4 separate regions of the Homo sapiens genome follow, and all the other regions are linked to region 3. The links come from fine-mapping of genetic effects on gene expression. A gene starts in region 3. Each other region holds a variant in brackets. All regions are shown on one strand. Distances are between the middles of the regions. Region 1 holds the start of MTG1 (mitochondrial ribosome associated GTPase 1). Region 2 has its middle 4.9 kb from the start of MIR202HG. Region 3 holds the start of ECHS1 (enoyl-CoA hydratase, short chain 1). Region 4 holds the start of ADAM8 (ADAM metallopeptidase domain 8).

The links. PIP is the estimated chance that this variant, and not a neighbour inherited with it, causes the effect.
Region 1: its variant is fine-mapped to the expression of ECHS1 in whole blood (TOPMed, PIP 0.96).
Region 2: its variant is fine-mapped to the expression of ECHS1 in blood mononuclear cells (TOPMed, PIP 0.95).
Region 4: its variant is fine-mapped to the expression of ECHS1 in whole blood (TOPMed, PIP above 0.99).

The regions. Positions count from the first base shown.
Region 1 is chr10:133,394,090-133,399,231 of GRCh38, reverse strand. It overlaps MTG1 (mitochondrial ribosome associated GTPase 1), which reads right to left and starts at 5,075. Exons shown (of 11, transcript NM_138384.4): 1 at 4,900-5,075; 2 at 3,455-3,519; 3 at 2,965-3,069; 4 at 717-797; 5 at 6-62. The coding sequence starts at 5,011. RefSeq lists an enhancer at 3,395-4,349 and silencers at 4,674-4,873, 4,934-5,142. The variant G/A (reference allele first, on the strand shown) is at 2,886.
Region 2 is chr10:133,250,169-133,255,310 of GRCh38, reverse strand. No RefSeq gene overlaps it. Among named protein-coding and RNA genes, the nearest start is that of MIR202HG, 4.9 kb to the right of the region's middle. The variant C/T (reference allele first, on the strand shown) is at 2,390.
Region 3 is chr10:133,370,914-133,376,032 of GRCh38, reverse strand. It overlaps ECHS1 (enoyl-CoA hydratase, short chain 1), which reads left to right and starts at 2,679. Exons shown (of 8, transcript NM_004092.4): 1 at 2,679-2,787. The coding sequence starts at 2,700. MIR3944 (microRNA 3944) reads left to right here and starts at 4,370; the gene lies at 4,370-4,477. LOC124902563 (a long non-coding RNA gene) reads left to right here. Exons shown (of 2, transcript XR_007062395.1): 2 at 827-1,297. RefSeq lists an enhancer at 1,936-2,025 and a silencer at 2,407-2,916.
Region 4 is chr10:133,273,045-133,278,186 of GRCh38, reverse strand. It overlaps ADAM8 (ADAM metallopeptidase domain 8), which reads left to right and starts at 1,319. Exons shown (of 23, transcript NM_001109.5): 1 at 1,319-1,415; 2 at 2,600-2,703; 3 at 3,952-4,028; 4 at 4,158-4,236; 5 at 4,349-4,425; 6 at 4,744-4,933. The coding sequence starts at 1,370. RefSeq lists a silencer at 1,070-1,629 and enhancers at 1,229-1,876, 2,880-3,139, 3,177-3,826. The variant G/A (reference allele first, on the strand shown) is at 2,950.

The DNA.
Region 1 (5,142 bases), 23 kb before region 3:
CCAACCTCTTTTCGGTGGTAGCGGTGGCTTCTCCCAATCAGTTCAGTGACCATCGGGATGATCTGCAACAAACACCCACTCATGGAGCCACCCCAGGTCGGACGTCTGTGCACTGACCCGCTCCTTCTGCCACCTCAGAACAGGATTAGGGATTCCAGTGTCTCCACTTTCACATATCCGTTAGGAAAACAGAAACCTCCTATCTGGAATTCTACCCAACATTTCATAGGCAAACTGGGCGTCACCCTTCATCTGGAGGTAGCACACCAAGTATCCGGTGTTGGGAAACTGGAGTTCTGTCCAGGTCACAGATGTCAGACTGAGCTCTGGGGCCGGGGACCACCTATGCCCGTCCCCTCCCATCAAAAACAAGCAGGGCAGACCCGGGGCTTCAGTGACAGCTGTAACTACCTTTTAATGAAGAAACACATCAAGCCAGAAAATTCTACCACATACAACTGGAAACATGAGCTACCTGAGTCTCCAAAAGACTCTGACCACCTACAACCCTGGAATGCGTCTACAGCCTGACCTTGTGCCCTCAGTACAGGGAGACCCACTTGCCCCAGGAGATCGCATCCGTGTGTGGCAGCTGGAAACCAACACCTAGGATCTTTTCCAAAGCTCTGCTTCTTACTAAAGCATAAAACAGTTTATAATGCTCCTCGAACCTACTGAAGCAGAAGCGTCAGAGAGAGCACAGACGAAAAGCCTACCTGCTTGACATTTTCATCCTTTACACAGTTGGTAAAAATGACATTTTTTAGGCCTTCTCCTTCTAAGTGTTGCATAATTTTCTGAAAGACACAAAACATTTCTATGTTACTTTTTTTACTGGAGTCTTGGCTCTGTCACCCAGGCTGGAGTGCAGTAGCACAATCTCGGCTCCCTGCAACCTCCGCCTCCCTGGTTCAAGCGATTCTCATGCCTCAGCCTCCCAAGTAGCAGGGATTACAGGCATGCGCCACCACGCCCAGATAATTTTTGAATTCACTGGCCTTAACATGCAGTGAAACTAGTGCAAAGCAGTATCATATTTCTAAACATCAGTGCTGTTAATCATCTGACCTAAAGTATGACTGATGTTTAAATCAACAAGTCCTTCACTGATTCAGCTGGTTTTATTTAGCTGTCCACGAAGATGACACGGATGGAGAGATCAAACATAAGACACACACCTGAAGCCACACACTCTGGGTAGTAAATGTACTTGGGTGTCCCTGCTCAGGGAGGCAGAAGGCAGGGCCACCCAGGGGCAAGTCTACCTCTCTCCCGATTCTTCAGAAGCACTGGCCTTTCTCTGACCAGGTCAGACACTGCTGTGCCCTATACTAGACGGCCACCCACCAGTCTACAAAAAGTCACATTTTCAAAGGCAGGAGTTGCCACTGATATGACGTAAAAGTACCAACTAGTGAAAACACTTGCGATGATTTAAAAAAAAAAAAAAAACAGGCTGGACGCAGTGACTCACGCCTGTAATACCAGCACTTTGGGAGGCCGAGGCGGGCGGATCATGAGGTCAGGAGATTGAGACCATCCTGGCTAACACAGTGAAACCCCGTCTCTACTAAAGATACAAAAAATTAGCCGGGCATGGTGGCGGGCGCCTGTAGTCCCGGCTGCTCAGGAGGCTGAGGCAGGAGAATGGCGTGAACCCGGGAGGCAGAGCTTGCAGTGAGTCAAGATTGCGCCACTGCACTCCAGCCTGGGCGACAGAGCAAGACTCTGCCTCAAAAAAAAAAAAAGAAAATAAGACACAAGACAAAGAGATAAAAGAAAAGACAGCTGTGCCTGGGGGACCACTACCACCAAGATGCAGAGACCGGTAGTGGCCCCAAATGTCTGGCTGCACTAATATTTATTGGATACAAAGCAAAAGGGGCAGGGTAAGGAGTGTGAGCCATCTCCAATGACAGGTAAGGTCACGTGGGTCATGTGTCCACTGGACAAGGGGCCCTTCCCTGCCTGGCAGCCAAGGCAGAGAGAGAGGGAGAAAGAGAGACAGCTTACGCCATTATTTCTGCTTATCAGAGACTTTCGGTACTTTCACTAATTTTGCTACTGCTATCTAAAAGACAGAGCCAGGTGTACAAGATGGAACATCAAGGCGGACTAGGAGCGTGACCACTGAAGCACAGCATCACAGGGAGACAGTTAAGCCTCCGGATAACTGCGGGCAGGCCTGACTGATGTCAGGTCCTCCACAAGAGGTGGAGGAGTAGAGTCTTCTCTAAACTCCCCTGGGGAAAGGGAGACTCCCTTTCCCGGTCTGCTAAGTAGCGGGTGCTTTTCCTTGACACTGACGCTACCGCTAGACCACAGTCGGCTTGGCAACGGGCGTCTTCCCAGACACTGGCGTTACCGCTAGACCAAGGAGTCCTCTGGTGGCCCTGTCTGGGCATAACAGAAGGCTCACACACTTGTCACGTCTCACTATGTCCCCTCAGCTCCTATCTCTGTATGGCCTGGTTTTTCCTAGGTTATGATTATAGAGCAAGAATTATAATAATATTGGAATGAAGAGTAATTGCTACAAACTAATGATTAGTAATATTCATATACAATCATATCTATGACCTATATCTAGTATAACTATTCTTATTTCATATGTTTTATTACACTGGAAAAGCTCGTGTCCTCGGTCTCTTGCCTCGGCACCTGGGTGGCTTGCTGCCCACAATGCGCACTCACTGACCACTCGGGCTCTGGCAGCACAACCTGGCCACTTCCCACAGGAGACGTGCACTCCCTGGGTGTCCAGGTCACGAACCACACATTAGATGGGGGCACGCCATATGAGAAACGATGCTGGCACGCTTCTGCAAAGCAAAGGGCTGTTTCTAAAGCAGAGCCTGCCTGGGCAAACTGACAAGTGTGCGTCC[G/A]GCAACTCTTCCGTTAGAACAAGCGACCTCGGGAAAACACAGCCACACTGCTGAAGGCGTCTGAGAGAAAGGCCTTTACCTGCTGCTCTGTAAGATCCGCCAAGTCCATCTTGTTGAGGACCAGCAAGTGAGGCTTAAGCCCAAGGGTTTCCTGAAACAGAGGGTTGCGGCCTGAAAGTGGGATGTGGCAAAATTAAGGTAAAAATTCCTCCAAAGCTTTACCAGCCAACCAACTTTTTTTCTTGCCATCAGTGAACGAATCATCACATCCTGCCAATTCATTCCTCAAGTACAGGAGAAAAGCCCCAGTTGGCAGGAACATTTAAACAGTTTCATAGCCCATCTAGAGGATTCCACTGCTGCACCGTACCGTCAGGCTTGAGTGACGCAGATATATGTATTAACAATGAAGTTTCAAAGACACGCAGTCTGGACCCCACATCACAGATTCTGATTAACTGGTCTAGAAAGGGGCCTCGCAATTCATATTTTTAAAAGCCTCCCCAGGTAATTCTAATGTGTAATATGACTTCAGGCAGAGGGGCCTCCCCTGCTCTGTGAAAGGATATCCGGGCATCGTGGACCTCGATGATACAGTCCACCAGCTTCAGGCTGCTCTGCATCTTCTTCAGCCCTGGAAAACAGAAGGACGCCTCAGCGAAGGGGCTCACAACCTTTCTAGAGTGATCGATTCAAGCTGAACCGTCCAGAATGACACGCCACCATAAATAACCTAAAAAGACTATATCTGAGGGAAGCGTACTAAGTAATGGTAACAGATAACATCCGCTGAGCGCCTCCTCCAAGGTCCGCACCCTCGGAGTGGGAGACTGGGAGGCACCCTGCCACAGGGTGGGCCATGTGTCAAAAGCCAGATGCGGTCTTCACCACCTGACTCATGGCTGACTCTGGGTGGAATATTTAACGTGCATGGGTCGCTTTTTTGTTTTCTGAGACGGAGTCTTGCTCTGTCACCCAGGCTGGAGTGCAGTGGCACGATCTCGGCTCACTGCAACCTCCGCCTGCCAGGTTCAAGCAATTCTCCTGCCTCAGCCTCCCGAGTAGCTGGGACTACAGGGACGCGCCACCATGCCGGGCTAATTTTTTGTATTTTTAGTAGAGACACGGTTTCACCATGCTGGCCAGGATAGTCTCGATGTCCTGACCTCGTGATCTGCCCACCTCGGCCTCCCAAAGTACTGGGATTACAAGCGTGAGCCACCGGGCCGGGCCCTTCCACGGGTCTTAATCTGGGCTATAACACAGAGTAACACTGGCTCATTAGGCCCCTGCTACCTCGCGGGGATGATGACGATAGTCCCCTAACCAGGAATACCACACACAACCAAGATAACAAAGCTTCCAGCTTTCTTCCCCTCCAGTGTTATCCGAAGACCGAGGACACAGCCTCAGTCACCCACACGGGCCCTTCTTCCCCCTCGGCCCCCAGTACACGCGGAGCCGACGCAGGAGTGGCCATCACAACACCTAGACGGGCTGGGCTGGCCCCAGAGGTCTTCTTGGGGCCGAATTGTGACAAACAGTAAGAATTACCAAAGACGTTAAGCAGGAGAACGACTCAAGATACCAGTTAAAACTGAACAGGTGCCTTCATACCCACTGTTTCATTTAGTCCCCAAAAGACTCAGAAAAGTCTATCTTGTCAAGAACATGTGGAAACGGAGGCTTCGGGGGATTAAAAGGGCAGAAGGAACTTGCTGGGAACAGAGGACAGGGGCGGCGGGCCAGAGGTAGGAGGTCAAGCAGGCCCTGGGTCCGAGGCTGCGCCGCGGGGGCACTCGCGGGAACGGGCCTCTCCCGCAGCTGCGCAGGGGAAGGGGTCCCGGCGGCTCCGGGAGCGGGTGAGAGCGGGGAAGGAGGGGAGACAAGGGAGGAGGGGCGGGGCCAGCCCAGAACGACCGGGAGAAGCAGGCGACGGCCGAAACCGGGGTGGGAGGGAAGCAGAGGCGCCGCGGCCGTAGGCATGACCTTGCCCCTCCCCGCCGTGCCTCACCCTTGGCCATGTGGCCCGGGAACCAGCGCGCCACGTCGCGACCGCACAGGGGGAAGTTCTCCCGCCAGGCGGCCTGGGCGGCGCTGCACAGCGCGCGCGGGGTCAATCTCATGGCGGCACCGTCCCCGGAAACGCTCCCGCAGCTGACCTCCTCTGCGCCGCTGCGACCCGCCTCTGAGGTTCCGGCGCTGCGGGCCTCCGGCACTGCGGGCTTCCGGCGCTCCAAGGGGCCGCACCACGGCC
Region 2 (5,142 bases), 120 kb after region 3:
GCTCAGCGGGGGTTGGAGGTGGCAGAGCCCTCCTCAGCCTGGGGGAGCTCAGCCCTGTCCTCAGTGAGAAAGACCCCCAGCCCCTGGCAGCGGACGGCAGTGACCACACAAGGGCTTGAGACCTGGGACTGGGACCTGGGCCGAGTGTGGGGTCCAGACCCAGGTGGTGGAGAAAGGGGTAGGCTCTGCAAGTGTGTGTGTGTGCATGTAGTGTGCTTTGTATGAGTGTGGGGTGTGTGTGTGTAGTACTAAACACATCATGTGACGTGTATATGTGTGTGGTGTGTGTCTACATGTGGTGTGGTGTGTGGGGTATGTATATATGTGGTGTGTACATGTGTGGTGTGTACAGGTGGGATGTGTATATATATGTGGTGTGCACATGTGTGGTGTGTGGGGTGTGTATTTGTGGTGTGTATGTGTGTGGTGTGTAGGTGTGTGGTGTGTGGGGTGTGTATATATATGTGTAGTGTGTACATGTGTGGTGTGTGTGTTGGGTGGCACGTGTGCACATGAGACACGGGGTCCAGCCCGGTGGCCCCAGCTCCTGGCCAGGCAATCCCAGGGGACAAAGGCTCCTGGACAAAATGGCTTTGGCCCCTTCCGCCCGCCGTGGCCTTGGAGGGCAGAGGAAAGTTCTCATGGCCCAGCGAGTGCTCCTGATATGTGGGTGTGCACAGGAGAAGAGAAAGAAAATATCAAGAAGCCGTGATTATCTCCTCTGAGGGAGTCACAGACACGCAGCCTTGAAACGCCAGCCCTGAGCTTAGGGCAGGGCTCTCCCAGGGCCGGGGATTAACTCTTTGCTTCCCTCTCCCTCCGGGGCTGGGGGCTGCCTATGGTGGCTCAGCTGAGCCCCTGGCCCACCAGCCCCTTGAGACCATCCCAGACCCTGCCAGGAGCCAGGCGGTGATCAGCCTCTGGGCACAGGCCCAGCCCTCCATCTCCCCTACAGCCGGCCTGGAGCACAGATTCCAGGGCCTGGCTCCCAAGGGGACATCCCATGGGGTCCCAGAGCCTCAGGAGCCTCAGGGCCCGGTCACTCAGCTGCACTGCCCTCCACACATGATCTGGGGCAGCCCCAGCACGCCTCAGGTCCTCAGTCTGACCTGGATCCCGGGAGCCCCCTGAAGACAGACGAACCGACCTGGGTCCTGGTCACTGCTCCAAGCTCATGCCCTCTCCATAAACTCGGTGTGGGGCCACCAGACGTAGCAAGTAAAAATTCAGGACACACAATTAATTCAAATTTCAGTGAAACAATGAAAACTTACAGTGTGAATGCATCCTAAATATTTCATGGGACATATTTATCCTAAGAAATGGTCCGTGTTCTTCCGAGACGCACATCTGACCCTGGGCCCCGTGTTATTCTGACCAGGGCATCCCAGGGTCAGCCGACCACCGCAGAGCGGGCACCCCCACGGCTCCGCCGCACAGCCCCAAGTTTTATTTCTATTTTATTTATTTTTTGCGGAATAAACAGTCTCAAGTGCACAAGCCCAGGGCTCTGGCAAATGCGTCCAGTGCGTAACTACCTCATCCTCAGGCCACGGAACATTCTACCGGGGGGGCCCTGTCACCCCACGTGGTTTGGCCTGCTCTGGGGAGGCCCGAGACCCTGTGTGTCTGCTTCTTTCTTGTACAGTCATCATGATTTTTTATCCATTTCTGTGTGGATGAAGGAGACTTGGGGACTTGGAGTGGTTCCTGTTTGAAGACCTTCTCCTTCTCCTTCTCCTTCTCTTCTTCTTCTTTTTTTTTTTATATGGAGTTTCACTCTTGTTACCCAGACTGGAGTGCAATGGCGCAATCCCGGCTCACCGCAACCTCTGTCTCCCGGTTTCAAGCGATTCTCCTGCCCCAGCCTCCCGAGTAGCTGGGATTACAGGTGCCCACTACCACGCCTGGCTAATTTTGTATTTTTAGTAGAGACGGGGTTTCTCCATGTTGGTCAGGCTGTCAGGCTGGTCTCGAACTCCCGACCTCAGGTGATCTGCCTGCCTCAGACTCCCAAAGTGCTGGGATTACAGGCGTGAGCCACCATGCCCAGCCTTCTTTTTTTTTTTTTGAGACAGGGCCTCGCTCTGTCACCCAGGCTGGAGTGCCTTGGACCATCACAGCTCACTGCAGCCTCGAACTCCTGGGTCAGATGATCCTCCCGCCTCAGAGTCTCGCATAGTTGGGACCACAGGTGCATCCACCACACACAACTAGTTTATTTTTTAATTTTTTGTAGAGACAAGGTCTCACCATGTTTCCCAGGCTGGTCTCAAACTCCTGGGCTCAATCAATCCTCCTGCCTCAGGCTCCCAAAGTGTTGGGATTACAGGCGTGAGCCACCCACCGCACCCGTCCCAGAATGTTCTTATTGAAGTCTTTCTGGGGA[C/T]GGATGATTTCATTCCTCTTTGTAAATGCTTAGGAGTGGAATTGCCAGGTCACACGGTGGACACAGGTTTCATTTGTAAGACTCTGTCCATCTCCGAGGGAACTCTATTTCCAGCACCTCCTTTGACAGGTGGGGAAACTGAGTCCAGGAGCGGTCAGCTTTGCTCTAGGCCTCGGCTGCTTCTCTGGGGTAGCCATTGACATCGCCCGGCCTGCAACTCAGGGGTCGGTGGGACCAGCACATAACCTGAGGGAAGTGCTGACTCCCGGGACACTGGACCTATGGGGTGGGGGCTGCAGGGCAGGGTCAGGAGCAGAGTGGGACAGGGTGCAGGGCAGGACAGGGTGCAGAGAGGGATGGGGTACAGGGCAGGACGGGGTGCAGGGCAGGACGGGGTGCAGGGAGAGCTGGGGTGCAGGGAGGGATAGGGTGCAGGGCGGGCCGGGGTGCAGGGTGGGCTGGGGTGCAGGGTGGGGCGGGGTGCAGGGCGGGCTGGGGTGCAGGGAGGGATGGGGTGCAGGGCGGGCCGGGGTGCAGAGCGGGGCACGGTGGGGTGCAGGGTGGGATAGGGCAAGATGAGGTGTGGGGCAGGACGGGCTGCTGGGCAGGGTTGGGCCCAGCCTCAGGGTGTGGCCAGTGTAGACTGAGGTCTCCACATGCGATGCAGGAGGAGCAGGCCACCCTCTTTGGGAACTTCAGCAGGGAGAGTCCACCAAGGGTTAACAGTGGGCTGCCTTTGGCCAGAGACAGCTGCAGGGACACCCCCGCCACCCGCCTCCACCGGGCCCCACAAGGAATGGAATGGAGGGAGTGGAGCCGCCTGAAGGCCACCCGTTATCACCGCCAGCTCCGTGCCAAGCACGTCTGCCAGACCCACAGAGATCCTTTCTGTTTCTGGTGGAGGGAGGGAGGGTGGCCGGTGTGTTTGGTGTGGAGGGGCTGCTATTGGGGTCTGAGGCACCCAGGGAGTGTCTGGACCCACAGCAGGGCCCCTGCCCAGGTGGTCATCCTGACCCCTGCTGATGGGGGAAGGACCAGGACACAGTCCCCGGCTGGTGCTGGCTGGACTGCTGAGGCCTTCTCGGGGTTGGCGGTGCAGCAGGAGGCCCCGGGATGGTGGGAAGGATGCCCGGGTGGGGCTCCTCTGCTTTCAGGCCCTTCCACCCCTACTCTGCAAATCTCCGGCAGGAGGTCCCCAGGATGGGTGGGAGCCAGGCTGTGCGGCCTCCAGTGGGTGAGGTGGGTCCCTGTCCTCCTGCTCACAGGCTGGGTTTCATTCAAAGCACTGGGGAGCCACAGGGAGCTCGGGACGGGGGCAGGTGTGTGGGGTGTGCCTGTCGGGAAGCCTGGGGTCCACCTGCGGGTGGTCCCTCGGCCCTCAGGGGCTGGGGTTTGCTCTGAGTCCCTCCCGTCACCTCACAGAATCCCCTGAGGGGTCTCAGGACCTCCAGGGCTCGTAGCCAGGATGGCCAGGCGACACTGACACCTGGTCCCTCGGCTGCCGCCCCTCTGACCAGTTCCACCCGGCAGCCCGAGCCCAAGACAGCACAAGACAGAGAGACAGAGACAGCGGGGAAGCAGGGAGACAGAGACAGAGAGACACACACAGAGAGACAGAGACAGCAGGGAGGCTCTGGGCTATTCTAGGGCATCGCCCAGTCCCTCACTTGGTTTCCCTAACTTTTTTCTGGATTATAAACCCACACCTGCTGATCAGGAAGACTTTCATCATCCACACGGGTTTAAAGGGGCTTCCAGGGACCGGAGGGTCGGGCTGCGCACAGGTGTGAGGACGGCCACCCTCTGCCCACTGCCTGGCCCACAGCCTTCTGTGGCTCCTTGAGGCCTAGGGGGAAACAGAGGGGGGTCTGGGCCCCCACCCAGTTGTCACCCCAGCTCCCAGGCTCCAGCCGATGGGGCCAGCAGGAAGACGGGCCCTGGGCTCCTCCACCTGCAGAGGCAGCAGAGGGTGGCCGTCCCCACACCTGTGCGCAGCCCGACCCTCCGGTCCCTGGAAGCCCCTTTAAACCCGTGTGGATGATGAAAGTCTTCCTGATCAGCAGGTGTGGGTTTATAATCCAGAAAAAAGTTAGGGAAACCAAGTGAGGGACTGGGCGATGCCCTAGAATAGCCCAGAGCCTCCCTGCTGTCTCTGTCTCTCTGTGTGTGTCTCTCTGTCTCTGTCTCCCTGCTTCCCCGCTGTCTCTGTCTCTCTGTATGTGTCTCTCTGTGTGTGTCTGTCTGTCTCCCTGCTCTTTCTCTCTGTATGTGTCTCTCTGTCTCTGCCTCTCTGTCTCCCCACTGTCTCTGTGTCTCTGTCTCTATCTCCCTACTCTCTGTCTCCCCACTGTCTCTGTCTCTTTGTTTGTCTCTTTGTCTCTGTGTCTTTGTCTCTCGGTCTCTGTCTCCCCACTGTGTCTCTCTATCTCTGTCCGTGTCTCTCTCTCTTTGTCTCTCTGTGTCTGTCTCTCTCTCTGTCTCCCCACTGTCTCTGTCTCTTGGTCTCTGTTTCCCCACTGTCTCTGTCTCTGTCCCTCTATGTCTGTGTCTCTCTCTGTGTCTGCTGATCTCTCTCTCTCTGTCTCTGTCTGTGTCTCTCTCTGTGTCTGCCTCTCTCTCTCTCTCTGACTCTGTCTGTGTCTCTCTCTGTGTCTGTTGGTCTCTCTGTCTCTGTCTCTCTGGCCCTCTGCCTGTCTCCTCCTTCCCTCTTGCAGAACCGAGGTCAGGAGCCCAAGGTCAGGGTTTGCATTATG
Region 3 (5,119 bases):
GCTAATCTAGTTTCTGTCTCTGTGGATTTGCCTGTTCTGTACATTTCATAGAAATGGAACCTATTCAATGCACGGCCTTTGTGTCTGGCTTTTTTTACTGAGCATAACATTTCCAAGGCTTGTCCATTTTGTAATGTGTATCAGCGCTTCTTTCTTTTTTACTCCTGAATAGAGTCCATTGTATAGTCTAATACATTCTAATGTATCCATTGTTTGGATATATGACATTTTGTTTATCCATTCATGAGTTGATGGACAATTGGCTTTTTCCCTCTTTTTGGCTATTATGAATAATGTTGCTATGAACGTTCATGTCTAAGTTTTTGTGGACATTTGTCTTCATTTCTCTGAGGTGTACACCTAAGAGTGGAGTTGCTGTTTGACCTTTTGAGGAAACAACAGACTGTTTTCCAAAGTGACTGCACCATTTTCCATTCCCGCTGGCAGTGTACCAGCGTTCCCCGCTCACGTCCCCCACAACCCGCTGTGACTGTTGGGCTTTTTATTGCAGCCAGCACAGTAGGTGTGACGTCGTATCACTGAGGGGTCAGTTTGCATTTCCCTAATGATTCGTGATGCTGAGCTTATCTGACACTGATTATCTTCATTGGAGGAATGTCTGTTCAGTCCTCTCACTATCTTGGTAGTGTCCTTTCAGACATAAAAGTTTTAAATTTTGGTGAAATCCAATTTACATATGTTCTCCCTTTGTTGCTTGTGCTTTTGTGGCTACATTACTTGATGGAGGACGGGAGCTGCCCGGCCTCCTGGGTCGTTAGAAAGGAAACCTCTTGGCGGACACGGTGGTCCACTCCTGTAATTCCAGCACTTTGCGAGGCCGAGACCGGTGGATCACTTGAGGTCAGGAGTTCGAGAACAGCCTGGCCAACATGGCAAAACTCCCGACTCTACTAAAAAACTACAAATATTAGCCGGGCATGGTGGTAAGCACCCGTAGTTCCAGCTACTCAGGAGGCTGAGGCAGGAGAATCGCTTGAACCCGGGAGGCGCAAGCTATGATGAGCCGGGATGACACCACTGCACTCCAGCCTGGGTGACAGCGAGACAAGAAAGAAAGGAAAGAAGAGAAGGTGAAGGAGAAGGAAGGAAGGAAATAAACCTCTTTTCTGTCTGAGCCATTTCATTTTGGGCCTGTCTGTCCCAGAGGTTTAACTACACTAGTATAGAGCATCGTTTACTAAAGGTTTGTTGAGGTTTGTTGTTGATTTGTTTCTACTTACACGAGATGTCTTCATTTTTACCCTCGGTCTTGAAATAAAATTTTGGTGCATGTTCATTTTTGGTTTGAATTGAATTATTTTCTTGAACATAGTGAGGCAGGAGAACAGGGTCTGGAGGCCAATTCATGCTGACTCCCTAGAACTAAATCAAATGGAAACACTTCCGCTATGACAAGAAGTGTCCTCTCCATTTACACAGGGCGTACACCAAGTAACCAATGGAAACCTCTAGAGGGTATTTAACCCCCCCAAAAAATCTGTAACGGGGCTCTTGAGCCGCTATGCTCAGCCGCTCCCACAGTGTGGAGTTATTTTCGTTGTCTTTTCTTGTTTCTTTTTTGAGACGAAGTCTGGCTCTATCGCCCAGGCTGGAGGGCAGTGGTGCGATCTCGGCTCACTGCAACCTCCGCCTCCCGGATTCAAGCAATTCTCCTGCGTCAGCCTCCCGAGTAGCTAAGACCACAGGCGTGCACCACCACGCCCGGCTAATTTTTGTGTTTTTAGTAGAGAGGGGGGTTTCACCATGTTGCCCAGGCTGGTCTCAAACTCCTGACGTCAGGTGATCTGCCCGCCTTGGCCTCCCAAAGTGCTGGGATTACAGGCCTGAGCCACCGCGCCCGGCCACACTTTTGTTTTCCATAAATCTCGCTTTTGTTGCTTCCTTCTTTCCGTGCTTTGTTTGTGCGTTTTGTCCAGTTCTTTGTTCAAGACGTCAAGAACCTGGACACCCTCCACCGGTCACAATAGCAGTTTCGCTTTCCATTCCATTTTATCCAGGGTGGTTTTATCTCCACCCTGGCGTTTGCAGAATCCGGGCAAGTACACAAATGGATGCTCCACAATACTTGTCTAGATATTTAAAAGGTATAAATAAAATAACTTAAATGAATGAAATTTTTATTATTTAAATCTGTTGAAGTCTTGTGTGCATGAAAATAAAACTCCTCCTAATGTGGCGTTCAGTGCCCACGCCGCTGCCACCGTGCCTGGCCCTGCGCCTGGGCGCGCTGTGTCCGCTGCTACAGACGCCGGCGGGCAGGCGGGCAGGCGGGCAGGCGGGCAGGCGGGCAGGCGGGCAGGCGGGCAGGCGGGCGGGGGGAGGCGGCGCAGAGCCCGGCAGGCGCCGCCGTTGCCTCCGCCTCCGCGCGGTCTCCCCGGGGCCAGCTGGGACCCCGAGGGCTGGGGCGGGGGCGGGGGCGCGGGCGACTGCGGCGGGGCCTGGAGGGCGCTGGTCCCAGCCCAGGGCGGGGTCCCGGGGACGCCCCTCGGCCTTAGATCCGCGAGCGGCAGCTCGGGCCTGGGGGCGGGGCCTGGCGGAGAGCGACCCGCTCACTCTGCCCGGGCTGATCTCGCGAGGGCCGCCTGGTCTCGCGGCGCTGGCCTGTGGGCGGAGCGAGCCCTGAAAGGCTATAGGCGAGGGGGCGGCTCCGCGGGGCCGGGCGAGGAGTCCAGAGAGCCATGGCCGCCCTGCGTGTCCTGCTGTCCTGCGTCCGCGGCCCGCTGAGGCCCCCGGTTCGCTGTCCCGCCTGGCGTCCCTTCGCCTCGGGTGAGTGCGCGGTGAGAGCTGGCGGCCCGAATCTCCTCCTGACTCCGACCTGCACGCCCAGACCAGATCCCAGACCGCACCCCCCTCCCACCTGACCCCGCATCCCCCACCTGACCCCAACCCACACCCCTCTTCCGCCTGACCCCGCACCCTCACCTGACCCCTACCCGCACCCCACTCCGCCTGACCCCGCACCCCCCCGCCTGACCCCGCACCCCCCCACCTGACCCCGCACCCTCCGGCCTGACCCCTACCCGCACCCCACTCCGCCTGACCCCGCACCCCCCCACCTGACCCCGCACCCCCCGGCCTGACCCCGCACCCCTCTTCCGTCCGATCCCGCATCCCCAGGGCCTGACTCCGCACTCTCCTGCCTGACCCCGCACCTACCACCTGACCCCGACCCGCAGCCCCTGCCTGGCTCAGGCCTGCAACACCCCCCTCGCCTAGTGCTGCACCCCCCACCTGACCCGCACCCACAGCCTGACCCAGGCTTAACACCCCCCCACCACCCGCCACCCCGCACCGACACCACCCACCTGACCCTGGCCCGCACCCCCACCCCCTGCCTGGCTCTGCAGGAGGCCACTCTCACCAGGCCACGTCCTGCGGGAGGCCCGGCGGCTGGCTGGTACTGCCCCAGTGCCAAGACCTCTGGCCAACTGGGCGCAGGGTGGGGGTTGTAAAAATCCGGGGTGTTCCCTCGGCTCTAAGAGCAGGCGTAGCTCCTGTGCAGCCGGCCAGCCCGAGAACAGGAGATGCAGGTGCATTTTGTCCTGGGTGCCTCCTGACCAGGGCCACCCCTCAGAGGGTCCTAAGGGAAAAGCTGACACCTCCTCCCCAGCCACAGGGGGCTGCCCTCTTCCTCCCTCGTGGCTCACCCGGGGCCCCACTCATGAGCGGCCATCACCGGCTCTAGTATCTGAGGAATCTTGGGCCATGCCTTGGGCTGGGGAAGAACTCTTGCTTCCTCTTCCTCCCTCACCCTGTGTAGCAGTGGACCACTGAGTTGTGTTGGTTTCATCTCCATGCTCTCCTTGGCCTTCGGCTTCTCCACCCTGACAGCAGCCCTTTCCTGGATCTTGCATGGCGGGCACTGCTGCCAGACACTTCACCTGTGATCTTCCAGTTACCCCTAGAAACCCACAGGATACGGCGGGGCACAGTGGCTAATGCCTATAATCCCAGCACTTTGGGAGGCTGAGGCAGGTGGATCACCTGAGGTCATCAAGACCACCTTGGCCAACATGGTGAAACCCCATGTCTACTAAAAATACAAAAATTAGCCAGGTGTGGTGGTGTGTGACCGTAGTCCCAGCTACTCGGGAGGCTGAGGCAGGAGAATCACCTGAACCCTGTAGGCAGAGGTCGCAGTGAGCCAAGATTGCGCCACTGCACTCCAGCCTGGGCAATAGAGTGAGACTCGGTCTCCAAAAAAAAGAAACCCATAGCACAGGGACTATGATCCCTGCTCTGCCACTAACGGAGGCAAGCATCCAACACACAGGCTACCTTTGTCTTTTCAGGTTCACCTTCTCACCCCTGGAACGCCATTGTCCTTTGTCTCCTTCCCACCTTGCTGTCCACCCAGCAGGCGCAGGTCCTGTGCAGCAGGCCAACCGAGAAGCGCCTGCGTCTCCCATTTTCGGGCTGGCCTGCTGCTCCGGACCTGTGCCTGATCTTAATGCTGCAGGAACACCCAGGATTTTCACATCCCCCACCCTGCGTCCAGTTGGCCAGAGGTCTTGGCACTGGGGCGGTACCAAGTGCAAGGAGCTGCCTTACACCCCCTCACCTGTTGGCATTTGTTGAAAGAAGGTGTTTCCTGGTGCCTTGTCTCAGCAGAGTCCAGGGCTGTCTCCAGAGTGGTGTCCTGGGAAGAGCTGACCAAGGCATATTAGGAGAAGGAAAGCGGCTGTGGGCTGTGTTCTGTGCTGGGGATTTTTCTTTTTTTCTTTTCTTTTTTTTTGAGACGGAGTCTCACTCTGTCACCCAGGCTGGAGTGCAGTGGCATGATCTCAGCTCACTGCAAGCTCCACCTCCTGGGTTCATGCCACTCTCCTGCCTCAGCCTCCCCAGTAGCTGGGACTACAGGCGCCCGCCACAACACCCGACTAATTTTTTGTATTTTAGGTAGAGACGGCGTTTCACCGTGTTAGCCAGGATGGTCTCGATCTCCTGACCTTGTGATTCGACCGCTTCGGCCTCCCAAATTGCTGGGATTACAGGCGTGAGCCACCGCGCCCGGCCCGGGGATTTTCTTTAGGACATGTTCAAACACATGTGAAAGCAGAGAGAATGGTACCAAGGCTACCATCTATCCTTGTGGCTG
Region 4 (5,142 bases), 98 kb after region 3:
CCATTGTTCTATAATAACAGGGTCACCTGCATGAGCTCAGGCACAGGCCAGTATCCCCAGCCCTACCTGGGAGCCTCTCGGCAGCCTGGGGGACCTCGTCCTGTGCCACACAGGCAAGCGGACACACCCCCAGGCAGCAGAAGTCACCTGCGGCCCAGTGCCAGCCCTTGCTTTCTTGCTTTTCATGCCATTCACATTAGGGTAAGAATGGCTTTGAGACAAAATGTGACAGCATCACTCACGCCAGCTTAGATCCTCCGGGTTCCCTGTCCTCCCAGGATAACGTCCGAGGCCCCGGCCTCTTCTTGCCACTGCCCCTTGACCTCTGTCCTCTGCCCCTAGGCCCGTGCAGTTCCCTGACTCGCCCTGCCCTGGTGCCCTCTCTCCAGGCAGGACTCCCTCCAGCCCCTTGCTGGCCCTGCCCTGCCTCTCCCCAGGGAGGCCCTGAGGCCCCCCCCCCCCATGTGATCTGTCAGCAGCGCCCTGTGTGGTCATCTGAGCTGCCTTTCCTGCCACCACCACTGTTCCCACTCCAGGAGGGCGGCCTGGCTGTGAAAGCCCCAGGGAGGGGTCCTGGGTGGACCGTCTGGGGAGCTGTGGTGTCAGCCCAAACCTGCACCCTCGAGGCTGAGCCCACCACGGGGAATGTGGTCACCAAGGGCAAGCACGCTTGGCCGCAGGCCTGGAGACGCCGGAGCCAGGCCACGGTGGGCTGCTGCAGGCTTTGGTCCACGTCGGCCAGCGTCAGCTGCTGTCTGGGGATCTTAGGCTAGGGACGGCCCCTGCACCTGCCATCACCTGGGCTGGGACCCCCACCTAGGGCTCCCCCTCCCCACTTGGACGCCTGCGGGCCCATGCCTATCCCACTCCGGTGAGGCCTCAGCCTGGTGGAGGGGGCGCAGGCTTGGGGGGGAGGGTGGCAGAGCTTCCCACAGGGCTGAACCTATGCCCACAAAGCCATGACTTGCCCCTGCCTGAGGCTTTCTGTTCCCCAGGAAATCAGAGACCCCCTCTCCTGAAACCGCCAGGCGGCCCTCACAAGTCCCTTCCCCTCCAGGACCTGCCTGGCGCCACCTCCTTCCAGCCGCCGGGTCCTTCGAGAGGCCCCCTCTCGGGGCTCTGGCCGGACTTGGGACAGGCTGTGCCTGAGTTTCCTCACCTGTGCAAGGGAGGATGCTGGATTGTGGGGAGAGGGGAAACGGACCCCGCCCCCAGGTGCCGCGCGCCCCGCCCCTCCCACCGGCCGAGGGGCCCATTGGCTGCGGGGCGCCGGGGCGGGGCGCGCGGAAAAGAGCCTCGGGCCAGGAGCGCAGGAACCAGACCGTGTCCCGCGGGGCTGTCACCTCCGCCTCTGCTCCCCGACCCGGCCATGCGCGGCCTCGGGCTCTGGCTGCTGGGCGCGATGATGCTGCCTGGTGAGTGGTTCCAGGGAACCGTCCCGGGCGCAGCGCGGGGCAGGGTGGCTCTCCCCGCAGGACGCGACGCGGACCCCGAGCCCCTGGCCTGCTCGCACCCCGCACCCTGGCCCGGCTTCGGGCTGGTCCCTGGGAGCGGGCCATCAGGTGCACAGTGGTCTCTGGGTGGAGAGCCCCGGGCCGGGGAGGCCGGGGAGGTCGGAGGGAACCTTCAAAGGTGAACTGTGAGAGGGAAGTCCCGCCTCTGAGCTTGTTAGTGGGGTCGGGGCCGGGCCAAGCAGGACGCTTCACCTGCTGCGCGAGGCGCCCTGGGTTCCTGGGATTCACCTGTGGGGCTACCCACCCCCACTATTTAGCCGAGGAGGGAAGGGAGGGCAGACAAGCTGAGGCCTGGAGTGCAGGGGTGTGGGCTGAGGGGACCCGTCTCCTGCCTGGGGGAGGACATGGGGCTGCTGACCCTGGATCCCACCCCTGCTCCTGGAGTGACTTGGGCTGGGGTGTGCTGAGGAGCTTCAGGCTGGAGGCCGGGTTGCTTCCCGCCAGTTTCCTGGGCAGATAGGGGCTGGCTGCTCCCCTGCTGCCTCTCCAGGTTGGAGATGTGGTCATGGAGACACGTCCACTATTGTGTTTTAATGGGAGCAAAGGGTCCTGGGGTTGGTGGTCTCCGAAACCCTGCCCATTGCATGCTGGGACCCTGCCCTCTGCTCTCGGATACCAGGGAGTTTCCAGTTCTTGGGAGGTGAACAGCCTCCGGGAGGCACTTCCTGCTCCCCAGTTAGATGCGATCAGATGATCAGAAGAATGGAGGAGGAGAATGGAAACGGGCAGGTCGGCGGCCCGAGTCCTCCTCCCTGGGGGGAAGGTTCATCCTTGCCCTCGGGCCCCTCCAGAGATCTGAGACAGCCTGGAGACCTGTGGAGTCACTGGCACCCGCTGGCACCCACAGCGTCTCTGAGCACTGTGTGTGGGTGCTGCAGGACACAGGCCCACCGGCCATGCCTGGGGGCGCTCCTGGGGTCTTTTAGGCACAGAACCCTCACTTGAGTCTTTGTCCCAGAGCTATCTGGTGAGTTCCCCAGGGGAGGGTCAAGCCCAGCAAGAGACAGAATCTGAGGGCCCAGGAGGCCTCTGGGAAGGAAACCTGCCCCCCGGCCCCTCATGCCTGCTGACCCTCCCTCCTGCAGCGATTGCCCCCAGCCGGCCCTGGGCCCTCATGGAGCAGTATGAGGTCGTGTTGCCGTGGCGTCTGCCAGGCCCCCGAGTCCGCCGAGCTCTGCCCTCCCACTTGGTGAGTCTAAGCTGGCCTGGGGAGGGTCCCTGGCTGGCCCCTGAGCCTATTTTTGTGAAAGGAGCTTTAGCTTACAGAAAGTGGTGAGAGGCCAGTGGGTGTCTGGGGCTGCCCTGTACAGCTCTAGCCCCCTGGGGCCCATCTCCGTTCCTCCCTCCAGCACTGCCTGAGGGCTCCCAGCCTCCTCGTTCCTTCAGGAGCTCTATGGACCCCTGGAAGGGAGCAGGGGCAGGTTGTGCTGGCCCC[G/A]GGCCCCTCCCCAGTTTCACTTGGCGAGGCTGATAAGCCAAATTCCTCTTTGAGAAGTGACGCTGGCTCACCGCAGAGTTGACACACCTTCCTGTGTTGGGGGGGGGGCCTGGCGGGGGTTTCCCAGGGCTAGAAACTGAGAATGCCCCCCTCCCCGACTGGGGCTGCCCGAGGGTGATTCCTGAAGCCTGAGTGGGTGGGTGTGCACACATGTGCACGGCATATGCATGTGTGCACCTGTTTCCAGGGAGGGCAGTTCCGGCCCCAGCCCTGTCCTTACCTCAGCATCCGGGGAACCTACTACCGACCTGCCCGCTGCCCTGGGCTCATCCAGCCGGTGGCACAGCTAAGGCTGTCCCAGAGCTCTGCAGGCCGAGCCCCAGCCTGCACATGGGGGCTGGAGATGCAGTGGTCCAGCAGGAGGCTCTGCAGGCACCACCAGGTCCGGCAGCTGCTGGAAGGGATGGGTCCTGGAGGCAGGCAGCTGTCGCTGGAGGGGCCTGTGCGTGCTATCCCCGCCACCCACCTCCTTTGCTGCCTGGCTGAGGCTATGCCTCCCCCACCCTATGCTTTCTCGGGGAAGGGGCATTGTCGTTACCCATGCGTGGTCAGATGGGGAAACTGAGGCCTGGGAGGACCGAGGAGCACCGTGTCCTTCCTGTCTACCCAAGTGCTGGGCTCCGCCGGTCGCCTTCAGCACAGCCCCGTTCCCTACCCTCCACCCTCCACCCCCCGCCCCCCACCCTCTGCCCTCCGCCCCCCGCCTCCACCCTCCACCCTCCACTCTCCACCCTCCACCTTCCACCCCCCACCCCCTGCCCCCTACCCTCCACCCTCCACCCTCTACCCTGCCTGAGGCTGTGGACCCTCCAGGATGGAGCCTTGACCTGGGGCTGGAGGCCGGCACCCCTTCCCCCCCAGCTGAGCTTCTCTGGCCCCCAGGATTGAGGTGGGCACAGCCCGGGCAGGCTGCTCACCTGGGACCCTTCCCTCCTCGCTCAGGGCCTGCACCCAGAGAGGGTGAGCTACGTCCTTGGGGCCACAGGGCACAACTTCACCCTCCACCTGCGGAAGAACAGGTGAGTGGGTCTCGGGTCGGCCCCCCTGCCCGGGCCTGGCTCCAGCACACTGGTGTCCCCGGCGTCCAGCCTCTGGGCCAGCCTCTCTGCACCGAGGGGGCCGAGGCAGTCACAGCACTTCTTTTCCAGGGACCTGCTGGGCTCCGGCTACACAGAGACCTATACGGCTGCCAATGGCTCCGAGGTGACGGAGCAGCCTCGCGGGCAGGTATGGGTCGGGCGGAGCAGCTGGGCGGGCAGGTAGGGGCTGGGCGGCCCTCCCCGAGCCTGTGGGGCCATGGGGGCACAGCCTGTGGACCCCTCTCCTGCTTCCCCCGCAGGACCACTGCTTCTACCAGGGCCACGTAGAGGGGTACCCGGACTCAGCCGCCAGCCTCAGCACCTGTGCCGGCCTCAGGTGGGTGTGGCGGACGAACGCCAGGGCTCCCGCAGGTGGAGAGGAAGGCCTAAGCCTGTGGTGGGGGTGGGGAAGGGAGGCAGGGAGGGTGCCTCCTCCTCCCACTCAGGCCTTTGCTGTCTTGCATGGGGGTCTGCTCAGGGGACGCCAAGCCCAAGAGGCTCACCCTCCTGTACCCTGGGGCCTGAAGTCACCTGCGGGGGGCTGCTGGTGGCAGGGTAGGGGGAGCTGTAGGCAACAAACTGGAGCCTCTGGTCCTTCGGGGCAGGACCAGGCCACTCTGAAGCCCACAGCACACCCGGCTCCCACTCCCCTCAGGGGTTTCTTCCAGGTGGGGTCAGACCTGCACCTGATCGAGCCCCTGGATGAAGGTGGCGAGGGCGGACGGCACGCCGTGTACCAGGCTGAGCACCTGCTGCAGACGGCCGGGACCTGCGGGGTCAGCGACGACAGCCTGGGCAGCCTCCTGGGACCCCGGACGGCAGCCGTCTTCAGGCCTCGGCCCGGGGTGAGCACCCTTGTCTCCTGTGTTTGGCTGGCCCTGCCGGTGTCCACTTGCCTGGCCTGTGAGTCCTCCTGGCTCCCCATGTGCTGGGTGCTGCCCATTGTCTGCAGCCTGGAGCAGGCCTGGCCACGCTCCCCCAGCACTGGACAGGGGCTGGACAGTGGCCCCGGGTCCCTGAGGGAGGGTCCAGGCCCCGGCGCTGGGAAGGCTGA